Homo sapiens: one gene and its partners. The protein of the gene in region 2 interacts with the protein of the main gene of each other region in a biochemical or structural test. Each region holds a gene or a part of one and is shown on either strand. Other genes may lie near its edges. The genes, in order: TNFAIP8L1, MAP3K5, TPD52L2 and PPP5C.

Region 1 (5,886 bases), on a different chromosome or scaffold from region 2:
CAGTCCGACGGCTCCTCAGACATCTAAACACACAGTTACCATAGGACCCAGCAATTCCACTTTGGGGGATCTACCCAAGAGAAACACAAGCATACACCACGCAAACACTTGTTTTGCACGTCACAGTTTACAGCGGCGTGACCCAGGGTAGCCTGCAAGTGGAAGCAACTCAAATGTCCGTATGTCCATTAATGGGTGAATGAATAAACAAAATGAGATCGGTCCAAACAATGGAATGTTCTCTAGCCATAAAAGGAACGAGGCTCACACACAAGCTCCAGCGTGGATGCACCTTGAGGACATCATTCCCAGTGACAGAAGCCAGACACACAAGGCCACAAAGTGTGTGATCCCACTTCTATGAAATGTTCAGGAAGGGCCGGGCACCGGCTCACGCCTGCAATCCCAGCACTTTGGGAGGCCGAGGCGGGCGGATCACAAGGTCAGGAGATCGAGACCATCCTGGCTAACACGGTGAAACCCCGTCTCTACTAAAAATACAAAAAATTAGCGGGGCGCGGTGGCGGGCACCTGTAATCCTGGCTACTCGGGAGGCTGAGGCAGGAGAATGGCGTGAACCCGGGAGGCGGAGCTTGCAGTGAGCCAAGATCACGTCACTGTACTCCAGCCTGGGTGACAGAGCGAGACTCCATCTCAAAAAAAAAAAAATGTTCAGGAGAGGCCTGTCCACAAGGGCAGAAAGCGGACTCGCGGGTGCTGGAAACTGGAAGAGGGGAAAATGGAAAGCGATTGCTAAATTGGGAACCAGGTTTTTTTGGGGTGAGTGGTAATGGAATGTTCTGGAATTAGAGATTCCAGAAATTTATGATGGTCACATAACTTTCTGGTTATAAATTGTACACTTTAAAACAATGATTGGCCAGGTGCGGTGGCTCATAACTGTAATCCCAGCAGTTTGGGAGGCAGAGGGAGGAGGATCAATTGAGGCCAGGAGTTCAAGACTAGCCTGGCCAACATAGTGAGACCCGGACTCAACTGAAAAAAAAAAAAAAAGTCGGCCGGGCGTGGTGGCGAGCACCTGTAATTCCAGCTACTCGGGAGACTGAGGCAGGAGAACCGCTTGAACCTGGGAGGCGGAGGTTGCAGGGAGTCGAGATTGTTCCACTGCACTCCAGCCTGGGTGCAAAAACTGTTCCCCTGCTGGAAGGAGGAGGTGCCGGTAACCAATAAATAGAAACAAACAAGTTAATTTCAGGAAGAGAGATATGGGCCACGGGGGTGGGGGATGAAGTTCAGGGTAACCAGGAGGGCCTCTCTAGGGAGAGGCTGGGCCAGTTGAACTGGGCCTGCAATGACAGGGTCTGCGGGAAGATGCTCCAGGCAAAGGGCACAGCCTGTGCAAAGGCCCTGGGGCAGGGCTGTGTCACGCTTGTTACAGGAACAGCCAGGAGGCCTCAGCCCTGTCCACAGCCTCTGTCCAGGTCCGTCCACAGCTCTGAGGTCTCCCTGCTGTGACCCTTGGCAGGCCCCATGCATGGGGGCAGCTTTCCCATCTGCAAAATGGGTGACCAGGCACCAACTCCCTGGCTCCCTTGACTCTTCCCCTGCTCCCTATATTCCTTTTTTTTTTTTTTTTTGAGACGGATCCTCCTGCCTCAGCCTCCCAAAGTGCTGGGACTACAGGTGTGAGCTACCACCCCTGGCTTAAATGTACTTTATTTAACTATAAGTTTATGTATGTATGTATGTTTGTATGTATTTTGAGATGGAGTCTTGCTCTGTCTCCCAGGCTGGAGTGCAGTGGCCAAATCTCAGCTCACTGCAACCTCTGCCTCCCGGATTCAAGCGATTCTCCTGCCTCAGCCTCAGCCTCCCAAGTAGCTAGGACTACAGGTGCATGCCACCACACCCAGCTGGTGTATTTGTATTTGTACAAAAATACAAATTTGTGTATTTTTAGTAGAGACGGGGTTTGGCCATGTCGGCCAGGCTGGTCTCTAACTCCCGGCCTCAAGTGATCTACTCGCCTCGGCCTCCCAAACTGCTGGGATTACAGGTGGGAGCCACCACGCCCAGCCTTAACTATAAGTTTATATTCTCCCACGTTAAATAATGGCTGCGTTTAACTACCAGATGGCAAAATTCCTGAAAACACAGGAGGTGGCTCTGGTGAGCTGGCTGCAATTATGTCACAAGTCCCTGCCGTCCCCACCCCTGTCCCATGAATTCTTCATGCACCTCACAGAGTGTCAATAATTGATGGATCTGCTCTGCAGGTGCACGCCAGCCGCTCCATCTGTCTTGTCTCAGCCCCGGCTGCACTCAGTCCGGGGGCCCAGGGGGGGCCTCAGGCCTCTTCCCGCCGAGGCCAGTGATCCCAGGCCTCATCCCACCGACTCCCAGGGTCCCACTGCACCAAGCCCTTTAAGACCCATGACTCACAGGCTGGGCGTGGTGGCTCATGCCTGTAATCCCAGCACTTTGGGAGGTCGAGGCGGGCAGATCACCTTAGGTCGGGAGTCCAAGACCAGCCTGGCCAACATGGTGAAACCCCATCTCTACTAAAAATACAAAAATTAGCCGTGTGTGGCACACGCCTGTAATCCCAGCTACTCGGGAGGCTGCGTCACGAGACTCGCATGAACCTGGGGGGCAGAGGTTGCAGTGAGCTCCACTTCATTCCAGCCTGAGAAACAGAGTGAGACTCTATCTCAAAAAAAAAAAAAAAAAAAAAAAAATCCATGACTCAGGACTTGCAAGCCGGTGTCCATTTTATTTTTATTTATTCATTTTTTTTTTAAGACAAGGTCTTACTCTGTTGCCCAGGCTGGAGTGCAGTGGTACCATTATAGCTCACTATAGCCTCGACCTCCTGGGCTCAAGTGATCCTCCCACCTCAGCCTCCTGAGTAGCTGGGACTACAGGTATGTGCCACCATGCCTGGTTAATTTTTTTTTTTTTTTTTTGGTAGACATGGCGTCTTGCTATGTTGCCCAGGCTAGTCTCGAACTCCTGGGCTCAAGTGATCCTCCCGCCTTGACCTCCCAAAGTGCTGGGATTGCAGGCGTGAGCTGCCACACTTGGCCAGTGTCCATTTTATTTTATTTTTATTTTATTTTTTTGAGACGGAGTTTCACTCTTGTTGCCCAGGCTGGAGTGCAATGGCATGATCTCAGCTCACTGCAACCTCTGCCTCCTGGGTTCAAGTGATTCTCCTGCCTCAGCCTCCCAAGTAGCTGGGATTACAGGCATGCGCCACCACGCCCGGTTAATTTTGTATTTTTAGTAGAGACGGGGTTTTCTCCATGTTGGTCAGGCTGGTCTCGAATTCCTGACCTCAGGTGATCCACCCGCCTCGGCCACCCAAAGTGCTGGGATTACAGGCATAAGCCACCGTGAACGGCCAATTTTATTATTTATTTATTTTTTGAGATGGAGTCTCGCTCTGTTGCGCGATCTCAGCCCACTGCAACCTCCACCTCTCCAGTTCAAGCAATTCTCCTGCCTCAGCCTCCCAAATAGCTGGGATTACAGGCACCTGCCACCATGCCTGGCTAAGTTTTGTATTTTTAGTAGAGATGGGGTTTTGCCATGTTGGCCAGGCTGGTCTCCTCCTGGGCTCAAGCGATCCTCCTGCTTCGGCCTCCCAGAATGCTAGGATTACAGGCATGAGCCGCCATACTTCGCCAGTGTCCATTTTAGTTATGGCAAAAGAGAGAGGGGAATCTGTTGGCCCAAGTTGGGGGTGACATCAGTTGTTCTCAAACTGGGTTCCCCAGCACCCTCAGGACCACCCCATGGATGGGCAGGGGCCAGCTGCCTGCTGGGTTGTGGCGGGGAGCCTGGACACTTTCCACTGTGGCCAGATTTCCACTGGAGAAAGGGTTCGAGGGCCAAACATGAATTATCAGCTACCCACAGCCCATGACTCTGCAGAGGAGGGGACAGGCTTGCCTCAGCCCAAGCAATAAATTATTAGAGTGCAGAGAAGCCTAGGATCACCTGGCAGGAGGTGCATCCAGCCCCTAAATGTGTCCCAATGCAACCCACTTTTTTTTTTTTTTTGAGACAGAGTCTCACTCTGTTGCCCAGGCTGGAGTGCAGCGGCGTGATCTCGGCTCACTGCAACCTCCGCCTCCTGGGTTCAGGTGATTCTCCTGCCTCAGCTTCCTGAGTAGCTGGTATTACAGACACGTGCCACCATGCCTGGGTAATTTTTGTATTTTTAGTAGAGATGGGGTTTCACCATGTTGGTCAGGCTGGTCTCCAACTCCTGACCTCAGGTGATCCACTTGCCTCAGCCTCCCAAAGTGCTGGGATTACATGAGCCACCCTGCCTGGCCTAACGCAACCCACTTCTTATCTCCCCCACAGCCTCCATCCTGGTCCCCTCGTCCCTCAGCACCATCTATCCCCATGCCCCCCGTCTGTCCTCCCTGTAGCAGCCAATGGGTGCCTGTGAGTACCTGAGTCAGGTTCCATCCTTCCCCTGCCCACCACCCTCCATGGCTCCCACCTCCCTTGGGGTCAAAGCCAAGTATTCCTGGCAGCCCATAAGATCCTGCGCACCCTGCCCTGTCCCCTCCCTGCCCTCCCCTCCTCCCTCTCTCCTCCTCCTCACTGCTCCAGCCCCACGGGCCTCCTTGCTGCTCCTCTACCATGCCAGGCGCCATCTTGCCCCAGGGCCTTTACACAACCTGTGCCCTCTGCCTGAGCTGCTCTTCTCCCAGGTCTCCACATGGCTGTTTCCTTCTTGTCATCCAGGTCTGGGTTTACATGGCCCCTCCTCAGGAAGCCCTCCCAGATCCCCCATCTATTTTATTTATTTTATGTGTATATTTTTAATTTTTTTTTTTTTTTTGAGATGGAGTCTCACACTCTGTCAACCCAGGCTGGAGAGCAGTGGTGCAATCTCGGCTCACTGCAACCTCTGCCTCTTGGGTTTAAGTGTTTCTCCTGCCTCAGCCTCCTGAGTAGCTGGATTACAGGCACCCACCACCACGCCCGCCTCATTTTTGTATTTTTAGTAGAGACAGGGTTTTGCCCTCTTGGCCAGGCTGGTCTCGAATTCCTGACCTCAGGTGATCCGGCCACCTCAGCCTCCCAAAGTGCTGGGATTACAGGCGTGAGCCACGGCGCCCAGCCAATTCTCTTCTTTTTCTTTGAGACAGGGTTTCACTCCTGTCGCCCAGGCTGAAGTGCAGTGGCATGAGCTCGGCTCACTGCAGCCTCAACCTCCCTGGGCTCAGGTGATCCTCCCACCTCAGCCTCCAGAGTGGCTGGGACTACAGGCCTGCGACACCACACCTGGCTAATTTTTTTTTCTTTGTTTTAAGTAGAGACAGGGTTTCACCATGTTGCCCAGGCTGGGAAATTCTCTAGATGGACCTGCAAGTTTTTGGTTATAAGGAAACTGAGTCACAGAGGGTCAGGAGCTTGCCTGTTTATAAAGCAGTGATGTGGCAGAATCAGAATTTGAACCCAGCCTTTAACCTAGTGCAATCCTTTCCTCATCCTAGTCAATGGCACATTTGGGGTTCAAGTCTCGTCTCTCCCAGAGCCCACCCCAGAGGGGAAGGATCGAAGCCTTAGGAAGCTTCTAGAAGTACTGTGTCCTGTAATCCCCTCCTCGGGCTTTTAACAATATCTTGTTGAATCTCCCCCACCCCTCAAAGCACCCTCCCTCCCCACAGTTATCTCAGCCCCACAAGAAAAAGGAGATGACCAGCCCCATTGGACAGATGGGGAAACTGAGGCCTAGAAGCTGGGGATTTACAAGATCCCAAGAACTCTGCCAGAGGTCCCTGCGTCAAAGCTCGAGCGGGTGTGATTCCAGGGAGGTCATCTGCTGAGGGGTGTCGGGAGATGCTGGGAAGGGGCAGGCATGCTGTGGAACTGGGCCGTTCCTGCCTCTCGCTCTGCCTC
Region 2 (5,886 bases):
AATCCCAGTTACTGGAGAGGCTGAGGCAGGAGAATCGCTTGAACCTGGGAGGCAGAGGTTGCAGTGAGCTAAGATCACATGACTGCACTCCAGCCTGGGCAACAGAACAAGACTCCATCTCAAAAATAAAATAAAATAAAATAAAATCTAAGGTTTAGTTCATAATACACAATCTTATGGATTATAATAATACTTTAACACTCTCATTTGCAAATACTTTTTTATGCCATGGATTTACTAAGTAAGTAGCTCATTTATATACTATTTACTTACCAAGAAGCTCCATGGTCTCTGCTTTCAGTGTCCGTGAAATTAGAGTCCAAAAACATATCTTTGTAGATTCGACCAACTAGGCAATACATATCTGAAGCAACTTGTCCTTCGCTTTGCACCATGGGAATCATAATATCAAGAGCTTTTGCTCTGTCACCAGGGAGATTTCTCCTAAGGCAGAAAACATTGTTGTTTCAATATACATTACAGAAGCAATATAGATCAATTCTTTTTTAAAAACCCTATTTAACATGTTGATTCATATTAGAGAAATTTGCCAGGACAGAAACAATTAGATTTTGAGAGTCCTCTGTAAACCTCTGTCCTAAGCCTAATTTTTTGTTTTATCCCATTGTATGTCTACTAGGTCTAACAAGGATTTCTTTTGAGTTTCTGTGTTAATAATGGTGATGGATTTGTACTTACTCATCCACAATCCTTCCAATTTCCCTGCAGCCTATATGCAGGTTCAAGTTGGTGAAACGAGATTAGAGTTGTAGTCTGTGTCTTTGAATAGGGTAGAGTAAATAAAGCCAAGTAGGGACAAAACCCTGACCTTAGGTTTCAATGGCTTTTGCTCCAAAACTTAGCAAACTCATTCACAGATGATACCAAAAATCAAATCAAACCCAAGAACTGCTTGATTTCTACGTGTGACTAACTGATTATCTAAGGAAGTTGCTTTATGTAGCATGCTTTAAAATAGTATGTGTAGACAGTTCACAAAACCAGATAAAAATTCTATAAGAGTTATCATTCCTTAGACCTTGAAAATATTATGCTAAGTGAAAGAGGTCAGTCACAAGGGACCACATACTGTATGATTCCATTTATATGAAATGTCCAGAATAGGCAAATCTGTAAAGACTGAAAGTAGATTCGTGGTTGCCTAGAGTTGGGGGATTTGGGAGGGAAATGGAAGGGGGGCTGCTAATGGGTACAGGGTTTCCTTGTGGAGTGATGAAAATGTTTTAAAATTTATTGTTTTGATGAAATATATTTAGTTTGTTTGTTTGGAGACAGAGTCTTGCTCTGTTGCCCAGGCTGGAGGGCAGTGGCATGATCTTGGCTCACTGCAACTTCTGCCTCCCAGGTTCAAGCGATTCTCCTGCCTCAGCCTCCCGAGTAGCCGGAACTACAGGTGCACACTGCCACACCTGGCTAATTTTTTTGTATTTTAGTAGAGACGGGGTTTCACCGTGTTGCCCAGGCTGCTCTCGAACTCCTGAGCTCAGGCAATCCGACCACCTTGGCCTCTCAAAGTGCTAGGATTGCAGGAGTGAGCCACCACGCCCAGCCTGTGAAATATGTTTCAATAAAGCTATTATAAAAAAGGTATCATTTCTATTCTCAATTACTACTTCAAATCTTCTGTCCAAGAAATTCCTTTTTATCCTTGGTAATAACTATCTAACACTATGTTCACCTAGACATAACCATCCTTACTCTAGTGAAAACTTTTGTGTGAATGACCATCTGGTGTTGAGTGTATTTGCTTAAAGATAACATCATATTCATGTAACTTTTACAATTCTAAAAAATATGAATAGCAAATACAAACTTTGACAGAGCAGAAAACCTGTAAGAATTTAAATATACCAACAGTGTGCGACTTTTTTTTTACTGAAAAATAAATCAGAAAAAAATGAGAATGCATGCTTCCTATATTTCATGGGGCTGAAGCAGATATGCTAATATTACATTTTAATAGGGACTTCTTGCAATGCTGCAGTGAACACATTCTCTGTAAAGAATTGCAGGTTACACAATAATATGTTAACGCATTCTGGAAGGGAACTTTTTCTTCTTACCTATTCAGTGCAAATGCATAATGAAACTTCACATGGTGATGGGAGGCCAAATCAAAGGTTGGCAGTTTTTCTAAAGTCTCTACCAGCTTCACAATAGAATCATAGTCCTTTCAAATTAGATGAGAATAGCACAGAATTAAACCATTAGGAGAAAATTCTCACAATAACGTGTCTTTTGACAACCAGATATCTGAATTCAAGAAACACATTAAAAAGACACTAGAATCCACAGAACACTTTGAAGAACCTAGAATAAACAGTTTTTGTTGTTTTTCTTCTAAAAGGTTTAGATCGTATATATAAAAACATTAGAAACATACAGTTACCATGTTGAACAAAAACTAAAAAAGCAAAAGAAACAAAAACACCAAGCATGATAGTGCTCTACTGTCTAAATATGGGTGATTTATTTCCCCATAGAGCCAGATTCCCGGTATGCAGTGTTCTAACAATTTCAGGGAAATAAAAATGTCAAGGACATGAGGCAATGGGTTGAACTTCTGTTACAAGTAGCAACACAGTTTCATGTCACATGAGTAAGCACTCTAGCCACAGGATCCTATGTGCCACAGCCCTCCATGGATGTGAGTCTGTCTTGAGCACATGAAGCCTTTACACAGACCTGAAAGGCTAGGAATGGAAAGGAGAAACCAGATGTCATTTAAATTTTACTATTAAAACCTAAGAGCAAATCCCTAACTTGGAGAGGATTTTATTCCACTTACCCTATTTTTAAAATTTTAAGACATGTCAATAAAAATGATATAACCTGTTAGTGTGTTTTACATTACATATTTTTAAAGTTATTTCTGTAGGTAATCAATTACATATTTTTTCCTTCAGGCGAGTTAGATTCAGCACTATCAATTTCAAGCAATACAATTTCAAGGGATAAAAGGTATGTCCAGAAAGCTCTAAAAATGTCTGCTATTTGCCAAAACAAAGCTTTCACTGACAGGTGTGCCTGAGGCTAACAGTAGAATAGACTGTGTCCACAGGTTCGCTGTGCCAGCAGATTTTTCTTTTTGTTCTTTTGGAGGAAAAAGTCAGGCCTTTACCATACAAGTCTTTCACAATCACTGATGGTTAACTCACATGAGTCTTTTTCATTCATCATAAAATTATAGGATGGAAAGCTTAAGAGAGTCAATAAAAAATTACGTGTAGTAACATGAACTGCTTACCAGCAAACTGAAATTTGAGGTTAATACTCCCTTATCCCTCCAACATGCTACACAACAAAGATTTCACTTTAAACATCTTCTCACCTGGATATCTCTGTAGGAAAGTAACAGATTTATGACAATATCTGCTGTCAAGACTTCGATATTATCTACTCGCTGCCGAATTCTTGCCAACTCAGCTGCCAATTCTTTACCAGTGTATAAATTACGAGCTTTCCTGATGTCATTGAGTATAGATTCCCGGAAGTACTGGCTGGTAAAAACACACACATTTCAAAGAGTTTGACATTAGAAACAATTTCAATGAAAAGCAATAATTTTAATAAAGACATGAATGATATTGCAGCATTAGCTATAAAGCATTTGTAGTTTTCAGTTCATTCAGATGCCTAAATAAATATCTTACATATCTGGCATTATTAAGAAATTTAGAAGCCAATGTATTTCTTTTATTACTCTGCCTTCAGAAAGAATTAAAGGTAAAGGTACTCCATATTAATAAATTTTCCTGCAAAAAACCACTTAAAATGCCAAAACTTTGTTTTCCATTTTACTGTTTCCAGTACAAATTGTTCTAAATAAATTAGATGTACCTATGATTTTTTGTTTGTTTGTTGTTTTTGTTTTTGAGACAGAGTCTCACTCTGTTGCCCAGACTAGAGTATACTGGCATGATCTTGGCTCACTGCAACCTCCATCTCCTGGGTTCAAGCAATTCTCTTGCCTCAGCCTTGTGAGTAGCTGGGATTACAGGTGTGCACCACCACACCTGGCTAATTTTTGTATTTTTGGTAGAGACAGGGTTTCGGCATGTTGGCCAGGCTGGTCTCGAACTCCTGATCTCAAGTGATCTGCCCACCTCGGCCTCCCAAAATGCTGGGATTACAGGCATGAGCCACGGCACTGGCCGTGATGTACCTATGATTTGAACATAATATAACCTTAACTTCCTGACTCAGCCTATCATTTATTAACATAAATAATTGTTCTTCACTGAAAGAACAATTAGAGTTAAGAGTTAATTAAAGTTGAATTGTTCTTGCCCTTACACTAGAAGTCCCTGGACATTTATCCTGGTATTGTTTCTGTACTTGCTTTGTATATATTTTTAGTTCTACCATCACTATAAAGCGGTTAGTAGACTTTTTAATTTTTTGCTGATTTCAAGTTGCTGTTCTGTGAATAAAATGTATTATGTGGCATCTATTTTATCTACTTGGAGGATAATAAACATTTTCCCCCTAGTTCTTAGCTGTATACTGATATCTCAGGAGCACCTGATATCATGCACAAATAAAGATGTAGAATAACACTTTATTGTCATCACCAAATGGCATTATTAATTAAACTTTACCTAGAACTTGCTTGTGCCACCTTCAAAAGTTGAATAAAACGATCCACAAGAGGTAAGCAGATGGGTCCAAGAAGCAGCTCGAAGTTCGGTTGCATGAGCTCTGTCAACCCCTTCATGAAGCTGCTGTCACAGCAGTAGACTTTGTTATGTGGAGTTATCATGTAAGGAACAAAGGTGTAGTTCCCAGTGCACATCTGCGGAGAGAGGAGGCATCGGCAAGTGGGGAGCTGGCCTGGAGACACGGCACAGATGGAATCCCACGTCTTACTCATTTTAAATAATTCCAAATGCAAAGGGAAATAGAAAAGCCTCATTATTTATTTATGACCTACGACAATGAAAATTTCCCCAATTCCTTTCACTGCATACTTCAAATAATTAGGACTTACAGATGATACCAAAAAAAGAGTGGAACAGTTTCTATCCATCAATTTAATATTTATTCACCATCTTTCAAGGCTAGGGCACTAAGTTATTGCTGTTGGAAAAAGTAGTTTAAAGCATGGCCTTCAGCTTTCAGGGAACTTATAATTTAGTCACAGGGCGCAGCATACACATATGAAAATGCTACAAGCTCACATTTGAAGGGCTTCCTACATGTAAGGTGATGCCGCAAGTAGATCCCGCTCAAATCCACCCCCCGGGAGGCTGCTCTCTCTCTGTCTCCCCACTACTAAAACTACAGGCCCAGAAGTTACCCTTGATGCTTCCATTCCCTTCCCCTTCCACATCCTATCGAAGTCCCATCTGTCCTGCCTCCAAAATATAATGTCATATTTGTCCATTTCCCTCCATCTTCTCGGCCAACACTTTAGTCCATGCACCAATGGACCTGGCCTGAGCCACTGCCATCAGCTTTAACTGGTCCCCCTGCTTCCACTCTTGTCCTCTAATTTACTCTCCACTCTGCCATCAGAGTGATCTTTCAACACTGTCCCTCAGATCACTTCCCACAGCTGCTTAAAGCCCCATCTCTTGCTCTTGGGAGAAAGAAGAAATTGCAATGCAACGTACAAGGGCCTGACTACGCAGATCCTGCCCCTCTCTAACCTCAGCCCTGCCACTCTCCCCTCGCCCACTACAGCCTGGGCTCACTGACCTTCTCTTGGTTCCTGGATGATGCCCAAGCGAGGATAAACTGGTGCAAACAAAAGCAGAGCAGGGATGAAAGTGGAAAGTGAGTTGGATACCCTGAGTAAGCAAATCTGACTGGAGCTCGAAGCTCAGGGAAGGGAATTAAATGCAAAGTTAAGGATGTTAGACT
Region 3 (5,886 bases), on a different chromosome or scaffold from region 2:
TGATCTGCCCGCCTTGGCCTCCAAAAGTGCTGGGATTACAGGTGTGAGCCATTGTGCCCAGCCTCATTTGTCTTTTTTTAAATAGAACAGAAAGGCTGGGCTCGGTGGCTTACGCCTGTAATTCTAACACATTGGGAGGCCGAGGCCAGTGGATCACTTGAGGTCAGGAGTTTGAGACCAGCCTAACCAACGTGCCAAAACCCCGTCTCTACTAAAAATAAAAAAATTAACCGGGCATGGTGGTGTGCTCCTGTAGTCCCAGCTACTTGGGAGGCTGAGGCAGGAGAATCGATTGAACCCAGGAGGTGGAGGTTGCAGTGAGCGGAGATCGTGCCACTGCACTCCAGCCTGGGTGACAGAGTAAGACTCGTCTAAAAAAAAAAAAAAGAGAATCAGTGGATAAAAAAGTGGATACGCTTCGTTTAGTAAGCGTTTGTGGAGCGCCAAGGAAGTGCACACGGCTCCAGTCCTATGGGACATTTGAAGGGAGTGAGATGCAGCCAGCTTTTAAGAAGAGTATCTTTGTTAAGTGCATTTAATCTGGTGTCTTTGTGTTGTCTTTTAAAAGGCATAGTTTTTTTTTCTTTTTCTTTTCTTTTGTTTTTTTTTTTTGAGACAGTCTCAAAAAAAAGAGACGGGGTTTCACCATATTGGCCAGGCTGGTCTTGAACTCCTGACCTCAGGTGATCCGCCCGCCTCAGCCTCCCAAAGTGCTGGGATTACCGGCATGAGCCACCCCGCCCGACCAGTTTTTCTTTTTTTTTTTAAAGAATTTTTTTTTGGCCGCGCGTGGTGGCTCAACGCCTGTAATCTCCCGGGTTCAAGTGATTCTCCTGCCTCAGCCTCCCAAGTAGCTGGGAACTACAGGCGCGTGCCACCACGCTAACTAATTTTGTATTTTTAGTAGAGACGGGGTTTCACCATTTTGGTCAAGCTGGTCTCGAACTCCTGACCTCATGTGATCCACCTGCCTCGGCCTCCAAAAGTGCTGGGATTATAGGCATGAGCCACTGCGCCTGGCAGTAAGCCTGTTTCTTTTCAGAATGTTTTGGTCAACAGGGAAAGTGTTACAATAGTCATGTGCTTGGATTTGGAGAGAATCGAAATAGACTGTTTTTCTTTATGTGAAATCTTGTAGACTTTTAGGGTAGTCAGGAAGATGCATTTGACATGAAGAAAAAACAGTGGCTGCAGGAATTTGAATGTGATCTGGGTGTAGTTGAGGTGTGTGGTGGCAGCACACCGCTCTGCACCTCTCTGCCTGCTGGCGGCCTTCTGGCAGTGGGATGAGAATCGGGAGGTAAGTAAAGGGAATTTTGTTTTGCTGCCTCCCTGAAGGAGCTGAATGAGCAGCATGTGCTCCTAGTACGTAATTTTAGCATGTGCTCTGTCAGATGTGTTGAGAGGAAAGTGATGCTTATTGTGTATATTAACCATATTAGGTTCCTTTTTTTAAAAAAAGTGGAAATTTGTCAGGGTATGGTGGCTCACACCTGTAATCCCAACACTTTGGGAGGCCAAGGCGGGCGGATCACCCGAGGTCGGGAATTGGAGACCAGCCTGGCCGACATGACGAAACCCCGTCTCTACTGAAAATACAAAAATAGCCAGCGTGGTGGCGTGCGCCTGTAATCCCAGCTACTCGAAGGCTGAGACAGGAGAATCACTTGAACCCGGGAGACGGAGGTTGCAGTGAGCTGAGATCGCACCATTGCACTCCAGCTTGGGAGGCAGAGTGAGACTCCATCAAAAAAAAAAGGTGGAAGGTCTGTTAGATTGAGCTGCTTTCTCTGTAGCAAGGGTTTCCTGCCTCTGACGATAGTATTCTCACTGGGAAGCCAGAATTCGGGTTTGCCTGCCTTGGGCCGGCATTTGTCGTGCCCTGAAGCAGCACAAGTGGCATTGGCTTTTCAGCTCAGGTGGTCTGAGGTGTGGCTGCCCTCGTCTACTGCCCATGCTGTCCTCACAGACCTTTCAGAGAAGAGGTGTTAGTCTCCAGGGTCTCACCCACTCCCACCTGTGCTTTTGTCCTGCTAGAGACCTCTACCGTATTTACTTGGAACTAACTTATTTGACACTTTGTGGCCTCATTTTGTCTCTGGCAGATATCAACCTGAATTCTCCTAACAAAGGTCTGCTGTCTGACTCCATGACGGATGTTCCTGTCGACACAGGTGTGGCTGCCCGGACTCCTGCTGTTGAGGGTCTGACAGAGGCTGAGGAGGAGGAGCTCAGGGCTGAGCTTACCAAGGTGCTGTGGCTTGGCTGTCTGTCCTGGGGTGAATTGGAGTTAAGGCCCTCTTGGATTAGTGAGAGGCCAGGGTACTGGCCACGCTCGGGAGGAATTGCCCTGGGTGGTCACCTACCCTGCTCTGTGTTCCGACTGATAACGGGGTTCTCTTTGTATGTGCCCAGCTCCATGCACTGGACTCAGAGCCACCTGGCAGTGGAGACAGGGCATGACTCCCTTCCCATACCTCTGTGCCTGGCCCTTCCTAAGTGCTCCCTGAGGAGTGTTCACACATGAACCGCCTCTGAGCAGCCATCTGCTGGGAGTGTCTCTGTTGGAATTAACACTTGATAATCATTTTTAAGACCCCATGAATCTTTCTTGTCCTGGATCTTAAGTTTTCTTTTAAACATATTTATTTTGGCTGGATGCAGTGGCTCATGCCTGTAATTCCAGCGCCTTAGGAGGACAGGGTGGTAAGGTGGGAAGATCACTTGAGCCCAGGAGTTTGAGAGCAGCCTGGGCAACACAGTGAGACCTTGTCTCTACCCCCAAAAATTAGCCAGGTGTGGTGGCATGTGCCTGTAGTCCCAGCTACTCAGGAGGCTGAGGTGAGAGGATTGCTTGAGGCCAGGAGGTCAAGGCTTCAGTGAGCTGTGATTGCATCCTGCACAGCAGCCTGGGTGACAGGGCGAGACCCTGTCTCAAAAACAAAACAAAAACTTCTTTTCTAAAAAGTATTTATGTGATCTTCTTTAAGTGAGAGTCCCTTAAGAGTAATGTAGGAATTAAGAACAAAAGCCTCCAACCATAATTTTTAGTCAAACCAACTGCCAAGAGTTTTCTTTTCACCCTGTGATGTGGTTTAATTCCAGAATCTGGGTCCAGGCCTAGGTCTGAGTAAGGTTGGTTGTGCCGCTGAGTCTGAGGACCAGGTTTCAGATCCTGAGGACATCACACAGCTATTTCTAGCCTAGAAGATTAAAGGAGAGTAGCAGGAAGTCCAAGGACACTTTGCTTTCCATTTAACTTCAGAATATGTGAGTTTAGAAACTAAATCCACAAGGTTTTTTTCAGAGTTGAATTACAATAAGGTGAAGTTTTTTTTTTTTTTTTTTTTTTTTTGAGTCGGAGTCTCTGCCGCCCAGGCTGGAGTGCAGTGGCGCAATCTCGGCTCACTGCAACCTCCAACACCCGGGTTCACGCCATTCTCCTGCCTCAGCCTCCTGAGTAGCTGGGACTACAGGCGCCCACCACCACGCCCGGCTAATTTTTTTGTGTTTTTAGTCGAGATGGGGTTTGTTTTTTTTTTTTGGAGACAGAGTCTCGCCCTGTCGCCCAGGCTGGAGTGCAATGGTGTGATCTCGGCTCGCTGCAATCTCCGCCTCCCAGGTTCAAGCGATTCTCCTGCCTCAGCCTCCCGAATATCTGGGATTACAGGCGCGTGCCTCCCTGCCCATCTAATTTTCGTATTTTTAGTAGAGACAGAGTTTCACCATGTTGGCCAGGCTGATCTCAAACTCCTGATCTTGTGATCCACCCACCTTGGCCTCCCAGAGTGCTGGGATTACAGGTGTGAGCCACTGTGCCCGGCCCCTACAAGGTGAAGTTCTGTATTGCTTTTTTTTGTTGTTTTTCTTGAGACAGAGTCTTGCTCTGTCGCCCAGGCTAGAGTGCAGTGGCGTGATCTCAGCTCACTGGAGCCTCTGCCTCCCTGGTTCAAGTGATTTTCATGCCTCAGCCTCCCAAGTAGGTGGGATTACAGACGCCTGCCACCACACCTGGCTAATTTTTGTATTTTTAGTAGAGACAGAGTTTCACCATGTTGGCCAGGCTGGTCCCGAACTCCGAGTCTCAAGAGCTCCACCTGGCTCAGCCTCCCGAAGTGCTAGGATTACAAATGCGAGCCGCTGTACCCAGCCAAGAAAGAGAATTTTTTTTTTTTTAAGGACGGAGTCTCACTCTGTCGCCCAGGCTGGAGTGCAGTGGCGTGATCTGGGCTCACTGCAGCCTCCACCTCCTGAGTTGAAGTGATTCTCTTGCCTCAGCCTCCCGAGTAGCTGGGATTACAGGCGCACAGCACCATGCCTGGCTAATTTTTGTATTTTTAGTAGAGACGGAGTTTCACCACGTTGGCCAGGTTGGTCTCGAACTCCAGACCTCAGGTAATCTGCCTGCCTCAGCCTCCCATAGTGCTGGGATTACACGCAAGAAAGAGTTTTTTTTTTTTTTTGAGACTTTTTGCTCTTGTTGCCCAGGCTGGAGTGGAATGGTGCGATCTTGGCTCACTGCAGCCTCTGCCTCCCAGGTTCAAGTGATTCTCCTGTCTCAGCCTCCCGAGTACCTGGGGTTACAGGTGCATGCCACCACGCCTGGCTAATTTTTGTATTTTTGGTAGAGACGGCCTTTCATCATATTGGTCAGGCTGGTCTCGGACTCCTGACCTCAGGTGATCTGCCCGCCTCGGCCTCCCAAAGTGCTGGGATTACAGGCATGAGCTATCGTACCCGGCCAAGAAAGAGAATTTTTAAAGAGAAGCTAGTCATATATGAGCTGAAGATACTGAGAACTCATTCTAAAGTGGTAAAGCTTTGAATGATGCCCCTTTCAGAGGTCATGTTCTTTTTTTTTTTTTTTTTTTTTAAAGACCTGAGAAAGTTCAAGTCTTCATGATCAGGAATCTTTCTGTTGCTCAGTTCTAACTACGTTAAGCACAAAAGATAATTTACCTTTTGGTTCGTGTAACTGACTCTTGCCAAGGTTTGGAACTGACCTCAGGAACACAAGTGTTTTCTTAAGGGTGTTTTTTTCTGTCACCTGTGTCACTGTCCATCTGCCTCCTCCTCTCTGCATATGGAATTCTATGAGTGCAGACGGTGCCCGGCTGCCAACAGTTCCAGCTTCTATTGTCCAAGCCCAGACTGAGAGCCCTGAGGGAAAAGGATCCTCACTGTTTTTTGTTTGTTTGTTTGTTTTTGAAACAGTCTCGGTCTGTCACCTAGGCTGGAGTGCAGTGGCATGATCTCGGCTCACTGCAACCTCTGTCTCCTGGGTTCAAACAGTTTTCCTGCCTCAGCCTCCCGAGTAGCTGGGGTTACAGGCGTGCACCACCATACCTGGCTAATTTTTGTATTTTTAGTAGAGACGGGGTTTTGTCATGTTGGCCAGGCTGGTCTCAAACTCCTGACCTCAGATAATCTGCCTGCCTTGGCCTCACAAAGTGCTGGGATTACAGGCGTGAGCCACTGTGCCCGGCCAGGGTCTTCACCATTTTTTTGTTGTTGTTGTTTTGTTTTGTTTGAGATGGAGTCTCGCTCTGTCACCCAGGCTGGAGTGCAGTGGCACAATCTTGGCTCACCCGCAAGCTCTGCCTCCTGGATTCACACCATTCTCCTGCCTCAGCCTCCCGAGTAGCTGGGACTACAGGTGCCCGCCACCGTGCCTGGCTAATTTTTTGTATTTTTTAGTAGAGACAGGGTTTCGCTGTGTTAACTGTGTTAGCCAGGATGGTCTCGATCTCCTGACCTCGTGATCCGCCCGCCTTGGCCTCCCAGAGTGCTGGGATTACAGGCATGCGCCACTGCGCCCGGCCGGTCTTCACCTTTTTAATACCATGCCCAGTCCTAGTAAAGAGCTCGGACAAACCTGGCATGGTC
Region 4 (5,580 bases), on a different chromosome or scaffold from region 2:
CACACGGCACCACGGGGATGCAGTCAGCCTAGTCCAGGACACAGGTGACTCGTACAGCAGGCAGCAACCTATTCTTCAACAAATAAATGATGCGGGTGGGGAGAGACAGGGAACTCACAGGCAAAGAGACTGAAAATGTGGTCCTTGTTTAGGTCCTGTCTGGAAGAAGTCAGCTGGAAAAGACACTTAGGAGAGACCAGGAGAAAGAGAACTTGGCAGGATTCGGGTGGGGGCAAGGGATCAACACTGTGTGTGTGTGTGTGTGTGTGTGTGTGTGTGTGTGTGTGTGTGTGTGTGTGTGTGTGTGTGTGTGTGTGTGTGTGTGTGTGTGTGTGTGTGTGTGTGTTTTGAGATGGAGTCTTACTCTTGCCCGTGTGCGTGTGTTTTGAGATGGAGTCTTACTCTTCCCCAGGCTGGAGTGCAGTGGTGCAATCTCAGCTCACTGCAACCTCTACCTCCCGGGTTCGAACAATTCTCCTGACTCAGCCTCCTGAGTAGCTGGGATTACGGGTGTGTGCCACCACGCCCTGCTAATTTTTGTATTTTTAGTAGAGATGGGGTTTCACCATGTTGGCCAGGCTGGTCTCAAACTCCTGACCTCAGGTGATCCGCCCACCTCGGCCTCCCAAAGTGCTGGGATTATAGGCGTGAGCCACCATGCCCAGCCAGCACTCAAAAGTGTAAACACGATATTGTGGTTAAGAAAAAGATCCCTTTCCTTCTGAAAAGTGCTGGGCAATCAGTGGGAGAAAGGTGAAGTGCCAGGGGCTTGCTGTAACACAGGGCAGCTGGTCAGCACTCACAGGCTGGCCCCACTGGTGCTGCATGGGTGGGTGACACATACGGGGGTGTTCGTCATGTTCTTTTATCTGCTCTTGCCTGTCTTTGAAATGTTCCATCATAAAAAGGCAAAACAAAAACCAAGACAAAAACCCGTGGCTTGGTAGAGGCCCTGGGCTGGAAAGGCAAAGACATACCAGTAGTTGGGGGCAGAGAAGACGGTGACACAGCGGCCTCCGTGAGCCACCTCGTAGCCCTCGGCCTTGACTTCGTGGCTGCGGATGATATAGTCCAGGTTGTTCTCTTCCAAGAAGGCCTTGGTGACGTCAGGCCCAAACTGACAGCTCACGCCCCGCTTGCTGATCGAGCGCCCGTTCTGAGGGTGGGCAGAAGGGAGAGACAGGGGTTCAGGGTGACTGTCTGCCTCCACCTGCTGCCACAGCCCACACCCGCCGGCCCTGCACCCCACCCTAGACTCACCTGTGGCTGTGGATCTGACCAGAGCAGGTCACACATGGGCCCTGGTGGGGAGCGAGGGAAACATTAGGGACTCGTCCACCTCCCCGGGGGTGGTCACTCACAGGCCACCTCCTGGCCCGGCCAGGTGCTGACCCCACAGCCCAGCCTGGGTGGGTGTTGGGCAGGGGACATCCAGCATGGACATGGACATTCAGGACAGGTGACTGTGATTCTGAGCCACCCCCACCCTCTCTGCTGATCTGCCCTCCAGACCCCATTCAATCCCCTGTGGCCCCGAAGCCAGATAGAGCTTTCAATGTCACTATTCAGATCAGGCCCCTCTCCCACTCAAAGCCTTTGGTGGCTCCGCACTGCCCTAGGAACAAAGTTCCTCACTGGGGCCTGTAAAGCGCCATAGGATTTGGGCCCAGTGAACCCCATGTCCAATGTCAGCCCTCAAAGCACAGCCCTGCCCACTCGCCAACTTCTCCCTGCCTTAGGACCCCTCCTCAAGCCTGGAATATGCTCGCCAGGCTCTGTGCACGGCAGATGCCTCTGCTTCCCGCAGTGTCAGCTCAAACCTCGCCTCCCTGGAGAGGCCTTCCTGAGCACCCAGCACCAGCCCACCCAATCCATGTCCTCTGCAGCACTCACAGTGTGCACGTGCGTGTGCACCTGTGGGTGAACTCTCTGAAGTGTGCCCGTCACTAGCACAGGAGCCCCAAGACCTCCCCTCCTTCCAGGGTTCCACAGCTGAACTCACAAATAAATAAGGACAGGTGTGCTCGGCGGTCACCGTGCCTTCACCCCGCACCATGGTCACGACCGTGCTTGCCATCACAGCCCCATGAAGGAGGTGCACTGGCCCAAGTCGCAGGTGAGGAAACTGAGGCTCAGACCCGCTGTTTCTTGCCAAGGGCACAAAGCCCATCCTCCGAGGCAGGGCTGGGTTGCAGGGGAGAGCTCAGCCCAGGCTGCCCCTTTCTGCTGGAGACACCTGGCCCCGCGCTGCTCACCTGAATCTGGGGGTTGTCGATTCCGCTCAATTTTCCGGATGTCATCCAGGGTGACACCGTCTTCACTGAACAGGCCTCCGTGCATGATCTGGGGAGATGGGGGATGCCGCTGTGAGGGAAGGTGCCACCCACCCACAGGCCCCAACTTCCTTCACCAGCACATCTGCCCAGGTGTGGCTGGGTGGGGAACCCACACTCAGGGCTCGCGCCGTCCTCACCAGCACTTTGCCGTTGATGCACTGGGCCAACGGGAGCCACTCGAACACCTCGCTAAAGAGCTCGTACATCTGGGCTGTGTACTTGGCCTTCACCTCACCCTCGAAACCGTAGATCTGGTTCATGTTGTCTGTCTCGTGGTTGCCTGGCCAACACGGGGACAGAAGAGAAAGCTCAGCCTCCAGGTACATCAGTGTCCTCCAGCCTGGCACCCTCAAGGCCCAGAACTGTGCATGCGTCCCTTGCCCCCATGGGCCTCGCACTTGCCACTGCGGTGCCTTCCAGACTGGAGGTACCAAGGGGGGAATCTTGACAAAAAGTAGGTCCATGGCTAAGCACCATGGCTCACGCCTATAATTCCAGCACTTTGGGAAGCCAAGGCAGAACTGCTTGAGCCCAGCAATTTGAGACCAGCCTGGGCAATATACTGAGACCTCTCTATAAAACAATTTTAAAAATTAGCTGGGCATGGTGGTGCGTGCCTATAGTGCCAGCTACTTGGGAGGCTGAGGCCAGAGGATCACTTGAGCCCACGAAGCAGAGGCTGCAGTGAGCTATGCTCATGCTACTGCACTCCAGCCTGGGCAACAGAGCAAAGCAAGACCGTCTCAAAACCAAAAAGTAGGCCCATCTACAGAACATGTGCCCCAGCCCACCCCACCCTGAGCTCCATCCTTCTGTCTCAGACACAAGCACCCGGCCTCCTTCTTCCCTTCCAGAGCTTGGGGGCAAGGAGAAGGCTGCCCAGTCTCGCATCTGCTCAGACTCTGCTTGTCTGACTTCTCGGCCTGAGCACTTGTTGCCTCCTGCAACGAGGCCCACAGTCGGGCTTCCTGAGCTTTGACCCTGTGCTGGACACTGCTGCGTGAACCCTGTGAGCCCAGGGACACGGGCATGCAGGCTTCGCCCCAGCCTATCACTCACCTCCCAACTCACCCCGGCCCCGCCATGGGCAGGGCCTCCCCTGTGTGGCCCTCACATCCCAGTGAGCTCCTCTTGTCTAATCTCATCTGGACACCAAGAAACCTACATTTTCAACACCCCTTGGAACCCCACCCACATCCCATGTCTCCTGAGTCTCAGCCACATCCAAAGGGGAGCTCCTCAGCTCCTGGCCACACCCTGCTCTACATGTTCCCGTCTTCGTCACTGGCAGCCATAGCCCTCCAGATACTCCGGCCAAAACCCTAGAGGGCCCCTTTCGTTCCCTCTTTGTCTCACACCTGTGTCTGTTCCTCCAGCAAATACTCTGGGCTCTACTTCCAAGTTTCTTACTTTTTTTTTTTTTTTCAAAGAGACAGGGTCTTGCTCTGTTGCCCACGCTGGAGTGCAGCGGTGTGATCATGGCTCACTGCAGCCTTACACTCCTGGGCTCAAGCAATCCTTCCACTTTGGCCACCCAAGAAGCTGGGACTACGGGTGCACGGTGCCACCATGCCTGGCTTTTTTTTTTTTTTTTAGACTGAGTCTCACTCTATCGACTAGGCTGGAGTGCAGTGGCGCAATCTCGGCTCATTGCAACATGTGCCTCCTGGGTTCAAGCGATTCTCCTGCCTCAGCCTCCCAGGCAGCTGGGATTACAGGCGTGTACCACCATGCCCGGCTAATTTTTGTATTTTTAGTAGAGACGGGGTTTCACCACATTGGACAGGCTGGTTTCGAACTCTTGACCTCAGATGATCCACCTGCCTTGGCCTCCCAAAATGCTGGGATTACAGGCATGAGCCACTGCGCCTGGCCTTTTTAAAAAATGTTTACTGGAGACAAAGTCTCACTGTGTTGCCCAGGCTGGTCTCAAACTCCTGGGCTGAAGTGATCCTCCTACCTGGGCCTTCCAAAGTGCTGGGATTACAGGTGTGAACCAGCACACTCAGCTCCGGGCTCTACTTCAATCAAGAGAACCCAAATCTGACACCAAGCCTGAATCTGAGGGGGCACAACTGCCTCGTCAACAGTCTCCTTACTCCCACCCTCGAGCCCTGGTCTGTTCACTCAGTCACTCAGCTTTAGTGCCAGATTTAGGGCCACCCAGGAGCCTGTTTCATGCCCTTGTGCAAATTAGAATAAGGGGCCCATCCTCACACCCTTGTTTGCCATCTGCTGAAAAATGGTCAGAGTAAACATCCATTTCTACACTATCTATGATGTAAACGCGTCCTTTGGTGTGATGCTTTTGTGCAGTGCACTACATACTCAATCTTAAAAGGTCGCCCTGTGCATGATCTCCGAGTCCACAAAATAAATACAGCTGCAACTATTATCCTTGCAGAGTGAGTGCCCCACTCAGGACCCCACAATGAACCCAAACCTTGTCACTTCCCAGCTCACCTCGAAGGAGGTGAAAGTGATCTGGGTACAGGAGCTTGAAGCCGAAAAGGGTGAGGATCACTTCTACAGAGAAGGAGCCTCGGTCCACAAAGTCACCATTAAATATCTGTCCTGCTGAGGAAAACATGGCAAGCGTGGAGGGGAAGGGTGCGGTGCGGTGGGGTTGGGGGTGGTGGCAGAAGATGGGCCAGATGGGCTGCTCCTGCCTGGCCTCAAGCCTCCTGTCAGCACCTCCCAGGGAGTGAGGACTTGGCAGGGCTCAAGGGATCTGGGTTTCTAATCCTTTCCTCACCGTGGCTCCAGCCAGAGCTTGGCCGCTGAGCCTCAGTAGTATGGCACTGAGGACCCTGCCTCCTGTCTCCCGGAAAGCCAGTGGCGGGGAGGTGCGGGGACTAGTCAGTCCACCTCCTTCAGCTCTCCTCAGAGAGGCCTGGAGCCATGGGGGAGATGGGACACGGGCCCTCCCACTCAACAATGCATAGGCCTAGTGGCCCTACAAGTGGCCGTTCATCGAGCAGATACCATAACACGGGGAAATACTTAGATAGCATCAGGTGTGGGCCAGGCCCTGTTCTTAACCTGTCCTCTCAGTAACTGCTGAGTAACAAGGTTGCACATATTATTATCCCTCTTTGCAAATGGGGAAACTGTGACACCAAGCAGTGAAGTAACCTGCTTCGGTCACACAGCTGGGAAGTGGCAAAGCCAGGATGGAACCCAAGTGTGGCCAGTGCCAGGTGCCATTCAAATGTGATCCTGAGGCAGACGAAGACAAGCCAAG

Evidence for each region.
Region 1: the proteins of MAP3K5 (region 2) and TNFAIP8L1 form a complex in vitro, tested with the Homo sapiens proteins (one study listed by BioGRID).
Region 3: the proteins of MAP3K5 (region 2) and TPD52L2 form a complex in vitro, tested with the Homo sapiens proteins (one study listed by BioGRID).
Region 4: of the proteins of MAP3K5 (region 2) and PPP5C, one has a biochemical effect on the other in vitro, tested with the Homo sapiens proteins (one study listed by BioGRID).

Annotation. Positions count from the first base shown.
Region 1 is NC_000019.10:4,641,419-4,647,304, reverse strand, and holds part of TNFAIP8L1 (tumor necrosis factor alpha-induced protein 8-like protein 1), read right to left. Parts: intron 1-5,886. UniProt on the Homo sapiens protein: Acts as a negative regulator of mTOR activity.
Region 2 is NC_000006.12:136,693,867-136,699,752, forward strand, and holds part of MAP3K5 (mitogen-activated protein kinase kinase kinase 5), read right to left. Parts: intron 4,817-5,886; coding exon 4,623-4,816; intron 3,522-4,622; coding exon 3,353-3,521; intron 2,192-3,352; coding exon 2,085-2,191; intron 445-2,084; coding exon 274-444; intron 1-273. UniProt on the Homo sapiens protein: Serine/threonine kinase which acts as an essential component of the MAP kinase signal transduction pathway. Plays an important role in the cascades of cellular responses evoked by changes in the environment.
Region 3 is NC_000020.11:63,867,191-63,873,076, forward strand, and holds part of TPD52L2 (tumor protein D54), read left to right. Parts: intron 1-2,105; coding exon 2,106-2,251; intron 2,252-5,886.
Region 4 is NC_000019.10:46,384,129-46,389,708, reverse strand, and holds part of PPP5C (serine/threonine-protein phosphatase 5), read right to left. Parts: intron 4,906-5,580; coding exon 4,800-4,905; intron 2,617-4,799; coding exon 2,474-2,616; intron 2,344-2,473; coding exon 2,256-2,343; intron 1,302-2,255; coding exon 1,261-1,301; intron 1,157-1,260; coding exon 978-1,156; intron 1-977. UniProt on the Homo sapiens protein: Serine/threonine-protein phosphatase that dephosphorylates a myriad of proteins involved in different signaling pathways including the kinases CSNK1E, ASK1/MAP3K5, PRKDC and RAF1, the nuclear receptors NR3C1, PPARG, ESR1 and ESR2, SMAD proteins and TAU/MAPT.